Linked DNA regions of Homo sapiens. The protein of the gene in region 1 purifies or fractionates together with the protein of each later gene. This does not show direct contact. Each region holds a gene or a part of one and is shown in the gene's direction. Other genes may lie near its edges. The genes, in order: TBC1D8 and JPH1.

Evidence for each region.
Region 2: the proteins of TBC1D8 (region 1) and JPH1 purify together in Homo sapiens (affinity purification with mass spectrometry; one large-scale study listed by BioGRID and IntAct). This does not show direct contact.

Annotation. Positions count from the first base shown.
Region 1 is NC_000002.12:101,148,583-101,152,803, reverse strand, and holds the start of TBC1D8 (TBC1 domain family member 8), read left to right. Parts: upstream 1-1,421; 5' UTR 1,422-1,550; coding exon 1,551-1,677; intron 1,678-4,221. UniProt on the Homo sapiens protein: May act as a GTPase-activating protein for Rab family protein(s).
Region 2 is NC_000008.11:74,237,779-74,241,798, reverse strand, and holds part of JPH1 (junctophilin-1), read left to right. Parts: intron 1-4,020. UniProt on the Homo sapiens protein: Junctophilins contribute to the formation of junctional membrane complexes (JMCs) which link the plasma membrane with the endoplasmic or sarcoplasmic reticulum in excitable cells.

The DNA of each region.
Region 1 (4,221 bases):
TCCTGTTAGGAAGCCTACGGCTCTTTTCTGCCTCATTTTCCTACCTGTGAGTTCTCCAGGGCAGACAAGTCTCCCAGTTCATCTCTGCGATTCCCGGGCCTGGCAGTGTGTCTGCGCGGGAGGTGCCAGTGAATGTCTCTGGAAGGAATGTTTTCTTACCGTCCCCGACTGTTCTATATGCCCTGGTGCACCCTAATGGTCCCGATTACCATTGACTTCCTTCCTCAGTTTCATTCAGAGGCTGTTAGTGGCTGCCAGTCCTGGACCATGCTCTCCCGGCCTCTGGGTGGGCGTTCCTGTCCCCCGCCCACACGGTTCTTGTCCGCCAGGTCTGGTCAGGGTTTCTGAGCTGTTCCCTTCTGGAGGCGCTTCCCTGAGTTCCCAGGCGTCCTGGGGGGTCGGGATTGACTTTACTTCCACTTTTCAGTTCTGTCCTAGTTATCAGTCACGTTTTGTCAGGGATTCCTTTGTTAAAACCCCAGGGATGTTTTCATGGGGTTGTTCTTTTCTTCTTTTGCTAGGTAGGGTGTTAAATGTAACTGCCTCCCTGTGGAGATCCTTGGAGGTCCTCCAGCCTGCTCCAGGCCAGCCACCTTGTCTCTGCTTCCACAACATCCTTGAGGAAATACGCATTTAAAACCCGACCTCTACATTCCCTGTAGTTTCTCTTCACATCGCCTACTCCATATTTTCCAGCTTTTCAATTTCTCTCAGAACAAAGGTTTTATTTCTGGGCAGGGCACTGACGGCGGTGACACTAATATCGGTACCTCCGGGCCACTTGAGGGACGTCCAGACCTGAGTCTGGTCTGATGCTTTCTTTAGGATCCCAAACATCGCTGCCGCCTCCGCAGCGCCGTCGGATCCCTGGGGAGAGCATCCAAAATGTGAACCAAGTATTAAAAACATTGGAATATAACTGTTTTTAATTCTTATGCTGTTTTTTGGTTATTTGTAATTTTTGTTGTTGTTGCTATTTTAAACCCAGCGCACTTAGGTTTTCTGGCGTGCATTCTGCCCCCCGCCCCCTCGGTGCGGAAAAATGCCCTCGGTGGGGCAACCTGCAGCTGCGAGAAGAAGGCTTTTTCCCTGTCCCTCCTCCACGTCTCAGGTCGAGGTCAGGGACGGCAGCTCTCCCGAGTTCCCCCTGAGAGCGCGGAGAGGCGGGAGGGAGGGAGCCTGGCGCAGGATTGGACTTCCTCCCTCCACTCCGGAACTGCGCGCCGGAGCGCCTTGGACGCGGAAACCCGGGAGGCGCCGCGGGAGCCGCGGGGTAGGGGCGGTCGGGGGCGGGGCCGGCGGCTGGAGAGGGGCCAGGGGCGGGTGCGGGGCGGGGCCAGGGGCGGGTGCGGGGCGGGGCCACGTGAGGGCCGCGCTGGGTGCGCGGGGCTAGCTGCGCCTGCTGCGCTCCGCGGGCTCTCAGAGCGCTGGGCACCGGCCGGGCTGTGGTCCCCGCGCGCCGCCGTCGCCTCTCGAGCGGGCTCGGCTCACAGCGACCGGCGGCCGGGGAGATGTGAGCTGGGGCCGGCGGGCGCGGCCGGACCGCCGCGATGTGGCTCAAGCCCGAGGAGGTGCTGCTGAAGAACGCGCTGAAGCTCTGGGTGACCCAGAAGAGCAGCTGCTACTTCATCCTGCAGCGGCGCCGCGGGCACGGCGAGGGGGGCGGCCGCCTCACCGGTAAGGGGCTCGCCGGGGCGGGCGCGGCGGCCGGGCCCGGGGCCTCGCACCCCGCCGGGCCCGCGGCCCCCAGTCCCGGGCTGCGTCGCCAGAGGCGATTTCTTGGGAGACGCGGGGCCCGGACGGCCCTGCCGCGGGCTTGTTTTCCTTTTTTCTGCGTTTCTCCCGCGGGCTCCCGTCGAGGTGGTGGTAGAGGGGGCTCCCGGGCGCGTGCGTTTTCCGGGCGAGGCAGGTGTCTTCGCCGCCTGGCCCGGTGAGCTGGAGGCCGGACTCGACTTGGGAATCGAAGGAGAAACGCCGGGTGGAGCGGGGCCGGAGGGCTCGGGGCCGCCCTGGAGCAGCGAGGCTGCTGTGTGGGGCCAGGTGACAGCGGGGTGCGCCGAGCCAGCCCGGACTCGGCCATCTGGAGGCGCCGGAGGCTCCAGGTGGTGTCGTGGCTGGGGGCGCGCGGCGATGCGCGCGGGGCGCAGCTCTTGGAGGCCGCGGTGAGCGGGAACTGTCTCCACGCCCGGAGGGGAAACTGAGGGTGGGCGAATCCCAAGCTCGTGATCTCAGTAGAGAAATTGAACAGATCAGTTTTTTCCTCTCTTTCAGTGTCTTACAAGGAATGATAGGAAAAAAAACCCAGGCTCGTAAAGTTGATGATAAAACAAAGCATTTTTTTTCTAAAAGTTTTGTTCCAAAGCTCTTTGAAATTGACGCCAACTTGCAGTAGCTAGGACACCTGTTTAAAGGTCAGTGAAGGAACAATTAGACTTTTTCATTTGTATCTAGGGGGCCTATATTTTTCTTTCCAATTTTGGAATCGGAATAAAAGAGAGCTTAGATCTCCTGTCTTGTTCCTGTTCTACTGAGGAGAAGACAGAGGCCAGAGAGAGGTCAAAGGACCTAGGTTAGGTCCCCGGGTTAGTGGTTGGCGGCTCTTTCTGCTCTCAGACCAGTCTAGGGAAGGCCTTTTTGAGGTTGAGTCTGGTAGGAGATGTACTAACACGCCTGGAAACCGCAGAACCAAGTGCAAAGGAACTGGATTTTGCTGGACTTTAGCTTCTGAGAAAGCTGGCGGTTGGGTTTGTTAGAGGAGTGCAGACTTACACTGAGACCGGGTGAGTGGGTGGGAGTTGGCAGGTTGCTGCATGGAGGGAGCTGTAGGCAGCTGAGGGTTCCCCATGGAAGGGGCAGAGTGTAGTTAGGATTCTGGACGGAGGCGGTGCTTTGGTAACCAGTGGTCCTGTTGAGTGGCAACAAGGACTCAACTTGGGCAACTTGGGCAGCACGTGGGCCTGCTCCAGGAGCTGTTTTGAGCTTTGGGGGAGGGAGTTGTGCAGGAGGCAGGGGCCACAGTGGCCTTGTTGGGCCCCGTGACGCACCCTGGTGCTTAGTGCCCAGGCTCTCAGGAAATGGAGGTGGGTGGTGCCCTGGGAAGAGGCGAAGAGGCAGGAATTTGTCGTCCCTCCCTTTCTTTGAGGGCAGTGTATCTTTATTTATGGTGCATTTAGCAGGGTTCCTGGTCTATAAATGTTTCATTTAGTAGAGAGTGAGGACAAGGCCTGAAGATTTGTGAAGTGAGAAACATAAGGACAGTTTGTCCCGTAAACGCTCATTCATTCACTGAGTTCCGTGCACATATGTAGGATACTCTGCTCGCTGCTCTGGAAAGAGGCCCGAGAGCAGGCGGTGAGGGCCGGCTACCTTCAGCCGATTCACCATCTAGTTAGTGGGTGAGATGGTTCCAGACACGGAGGGCAGAGCTGGCCATAGGATGCCTGGCTTCAAGCCCGCTTCCTGTCCAGAGGGTTTCTGACTCTGTTGTCCAGAGTCTCTGTGATGAACTCAGTGAATTCCCTCCCTGTTTCATTCCAAAATCAAGCAGGTCCCATATTATTATTATACCTGTGGCTCTGGCATTCCTTGATATTTACTTCGGTTTGGACTTACTGTGAATGTGCAGAATTTTCTTATGCTTAAATGCAACAAGATCGACCATAAAGAGGGAAAAGTCTACAAAAAGAGGACACTTGATGTATTTCTTGGAGACCCTGTTGATTTTGAAAAGGATGACATGTGCAGCCAGACACTTTACCTTTGAGCATTTAGCTGGGAAGCCAATGCCGATGAAGCAGCGCTGACCTGCCACGTGTGCTGTGGGGGGCTGGTCTTCATGGGACCACTTAGGATTGTGGTAAAGTCAAGACCCATGGGACACAGGGCAGCTCTGTGGTGGTGGCGGTTTTTGGAAAATGTGCAATTCTAATGTGGCAGATTGTTAGCAATTTAAGAGTTTAAAACCTAGATTGAGTTTATGAAAAGAATGAGGGCTACAGTGATACACATTCTGGCAGGTTGTAGACTTTTGTTTGGAGGGAAGCAAGCAGTGGTGGCCTAAGGGGGATTGGAAGTAAAATGTAAGAGAGCAGTAATCAATAAACATCTCTTTTCCTTTATTGTGATGCTGAATTTGTATTAGTAGGAGTTTAGACAGAGGAGATCTGGTGGTTGAAGTAATCTTAATTGCCTAACTTCAGAAATACTATCAGCTTTTGTTTC
Region 2 (4,020 bases), on another chromosome or scaffold:
TCTAATCTTTCTTTTGAATTTGTGTAAAATTTAAAGCGTCCCCATCAAATTGGGTTTGAACCTCACCCCCGAAAGAGGTAAATATATATAATTAAACTTTGCTGTTAATACTTAATTAAACTTTGTTCTTCTCTTGTGTTTCTAGCTAGAGAAGCTTTAGATTTCACATAAACCATAGTAACTCTTCTAGCAGAAAATTCCTTACAGTTTTAAATATGAGTGACAATCTCTTAAAGGAAAAAAAGATAATTTTTTGAGTTAGGATTTCTTTCTGTATTTTGATTTCCTGTTTTTTATTTTCTTACCACCTGGAAAATTTCTTCCAATCAAGACTTACCCTGTGCCCTGCTACAGCTTCTTGTATTACACCTGTCCCAGTCAGTCTTGAAAAGCAAGACAGATTTTTTTTTCATTTTGCTATTTTAAGCTACAACTGGCCACCACAGTCGTATTTATGAGACTTTACCTTAAAGCTTTTCACCCCATATCCTGTGCCTAGGTATATAAAGAACACAGAGGCCAGGGCTTGGTATCTGCCACTGAACAGAGCATCCCGGATTTTTATTTTTCCCCTGGTTGCTGTTTGAAGCTTTCATGTCTAGTTTTCCCTCATCTTCACTGAGTCACCTTTAAAAATAGCTTTCTAAGTGGAGCCACCCTGGTAGGATAAATATATATGTGTGTGTATATTAGAACATATACAGGAGAAATATGTGTGTGTGTGTATGCGTGCAAAAGAAAAAAATATATATGTATGTATTTTTCATTTTGGATAAAGCACTCATTCACTATTCATTGAATCTGGATTGCCAGTACAGTGATATGTGGGCTAAAAACTAGAGAAAAGATAGTAATCTAAATTCAAACCAAAAGAATATACAAATTCAAAATACTCACTAATTCAAAGGGGTTAGATAAATTCACAGAATCTTATATGGATTTATGAAATGGGAGTTAAGGTTCAGGCACACCTTGGACTTTAGAAGTTGGCTTCATGGAAGGCACGTTCTCTGCTATTTCACTTTCCTGGGTCCACTGTAAGACACCAAAGTCTATGTTGTATTGTTCTGACCAGGTGTATTTTTCCTCACCTTTCATATCACTAAATTACCTTTGAAAATTATAAAATAAACCCAGTAGCCCAGAATAGTTGAAATGATCCAAAATTCTTAAAACACTCATGAACAAAATCTAATCTAAGTGTGTAGTAGTACAGGTGGAACATCCAGAATGCTCCAACATCTGGTCATGATGTGAAGTGAAAGAAGCCAGGCACAGAAAGACAAACTTTGCATGTTCTCATTTATTTGTGGGAGCTAAAAATTAAAGCGATCACACTCATGGAGATGGAGAGTAGAAGGATGGTTACCAGAGGCTGGATGGAAAGTGAAGACGTAGGGGAGAAGAGGGGATGTTTAATGGATACAAAAAAAAAAATAGAACAAATAAGATCTAGTATTTGATAGCACAACAGGGTGACTGTAGTTAATAATAATTTAATTGTACCTTTTAAAATAACTAAAAGAGAACTGGGCACGGTAGCCCACACCTGTAATCCCAACACTTTGGGAGGCTGAGGCGGATGGATCACTTGAGGTCAGGAGTTCAGGACCAGCCTGGCCAACATGGTGAAACCCCGTCTCTACCAAAAATATAAAAGTTAGCTGGGCATCGTAGTGAACACCTGTAGTCCCAGCTACTCGGGAGGCTGAGGCAGGAGAATCACTTGAAGCCAGGAGGCAGAGGTTACGGTGAGCCAAGATCGCGCCACTGCACTCCAGCCTGGGTGACAGAGCAAGACTCCACCTCAAAAAATAAAATAACTAAAAGAGTATAATTGGATTGTTTGGAACACAAAGAATAAATGCTTTAGGTGTTGGATACCTCATTACCCTGATGTGATTATTACACATTCTATGCTGGTATCAAAATATCACATATATACCATGTTACCCACAAAAATTAAAAATTTTTTAAATCTCCAGAATCTGAAACTTTTAGAGCACCAACATGATGCTCAAAGGAAATTCTCATTGCAGCATTTTAGAATTTTGTATTCGGGATGCTCAACCTGTACATCAGAAGAAAATCTGAAACCCCAAACACTTAGGGTCCCAAGTGTTTCAGATAAGGGATGCTTAGCCTGTAATAATATTTCCTTAATCTCTGTGCTCAGTTGTGACATTGAAAGATCGTCTCCACTATTTTCTGAGTTATAAGAGTTTTCTGCATTATTTCTATGCTCTAAATTAACCATAATTGAGGAGTTGCACAGGTTAGGACTCTCCTATCAATTTAGAATTACAACTATTCTAAAAGAGCAGTTGGTCGTTATCACAATTTGATGTTTTTCTGATACTGTGGAAATTATAGGATATAGAGGAAAATGTCATTTTAAAGGACTGAATGGGAAATTGCCTTTAAACTAAGGCCTGTATCTTTAATAGACATATAGAGAAAAGAGCATGGAGCTCTGAAGTGACCAGACTAAAGCTTAATTCGAGTTCCAATTTGTTCAAACTGGCTGAGGAAACTTGAGCAAGACACCTGTCCTCTTAAGCTCTGTAAAATGGAACTAATAATCACTTGTGAAGAATAAACAAAAAAAAAAATCTCAGAGATGTTTAACCCACTGCCCAGCATTATAAAAACCTGCAAAAAATGTTTATTTTCCTCCCATTTACTTGGGGTTTAGGAACTGATGCTTTTCTTCTGCCTAATAGTCCCCACTTAAAGGGGACTCATGTTTACTTCCTCTCCCTCCCCCATTTTACTCATCACCCTGTTTGTTCTTCATTTAATTCAGTGATTTAATCCATTTCGTTTAACAACCCACATTTGGGTCAGGCACTGTGGTACACGCCTGGAATCCCAGCACTTTGGGAGGCCAAGGTGGCAGGATCGCTTAAGGCCAGGAAGTTGAGACCAGCCTGGGCAACATAGTGAGACCTCATCTCTACAAAAAATACAAAAATTAACCAGGTTTGATAGCACGCACTGTTGGTCTCAGCTACTCAGGAAGCTGAAGTGGTAGGATAGCTTGAACCTGGGAGGTCAAGGCTGCGATGAGCTGAGATCACACCACTGCATTCCAGTCTGGGTGACAGAGCAAGAGCCTGTCTCAAAACAAAACAACCCACATCCACGGCACTTGGAAATGTGCTGGAAGATAGTAGAGTCTCATTAAATATTGGTTGCCTGAATGAATTGGGCAATGTCACGTGTCTGTGCACTGGGTACATAGCAGTGAATAAGACAAGGCCCCTGCCACTGTGGAGCTCAGAGTCTTGTGGGGGAAAATAGCAGTTAAACAACAAAGGATAATCAAGTGTGAAACGCCTTGTGATAGAGAAAGAGCAGGGCACTCTGACCTCTACCACGGAGATGTGGGCTCAGTCAGGGAAAGAGACCTTCTTGAGTCAATGATGTGTGACCCAAACCCTAGACCCGAATTGATTAGTGTTTGACCAATGACAGCTCCAATCTCCATTATTCACTTACCCCACACCCAAAAAACATCAATACTTTTGAGGCCTCTGTAACATTGTTTCAGTGTAGTCTTACCCAGTATCCAAATGGAGTACCACTGTTTCCTCTTCTGTAAAATGAGGACAATAAAACTACCTACCTCATAAAGCCAGTTTAGAATACTTTTAATGCTATATAAGAATTAGACATTATTTTAACAGTAAATACCACAATCATGTCTTTGTAATAAAGGTGGCTTCTTCATGGAGCAGATCTGAAAAGATGGGTTATATGAGGTTGGTTTGTTTAAACAAGTAAAAATTTGGGGCCCTTGGACAACTATCTGGTATTTATTATAATGATATTTATCAAAATAGGATCCCATAGTTTGTAAAATATAACTTCATTTCTGAAATGTTGTGGTTGTGATTAGAGAAATTTGAAAAGCTGGGCCTGTAAGATAACTTCTGAAAGTATCCAACTTCTCACTTACAGCTTTTACTTAACGGAAAGGGTGGTGTCCAAACAGAGGACCAGGGAAAAAGCAAGAGG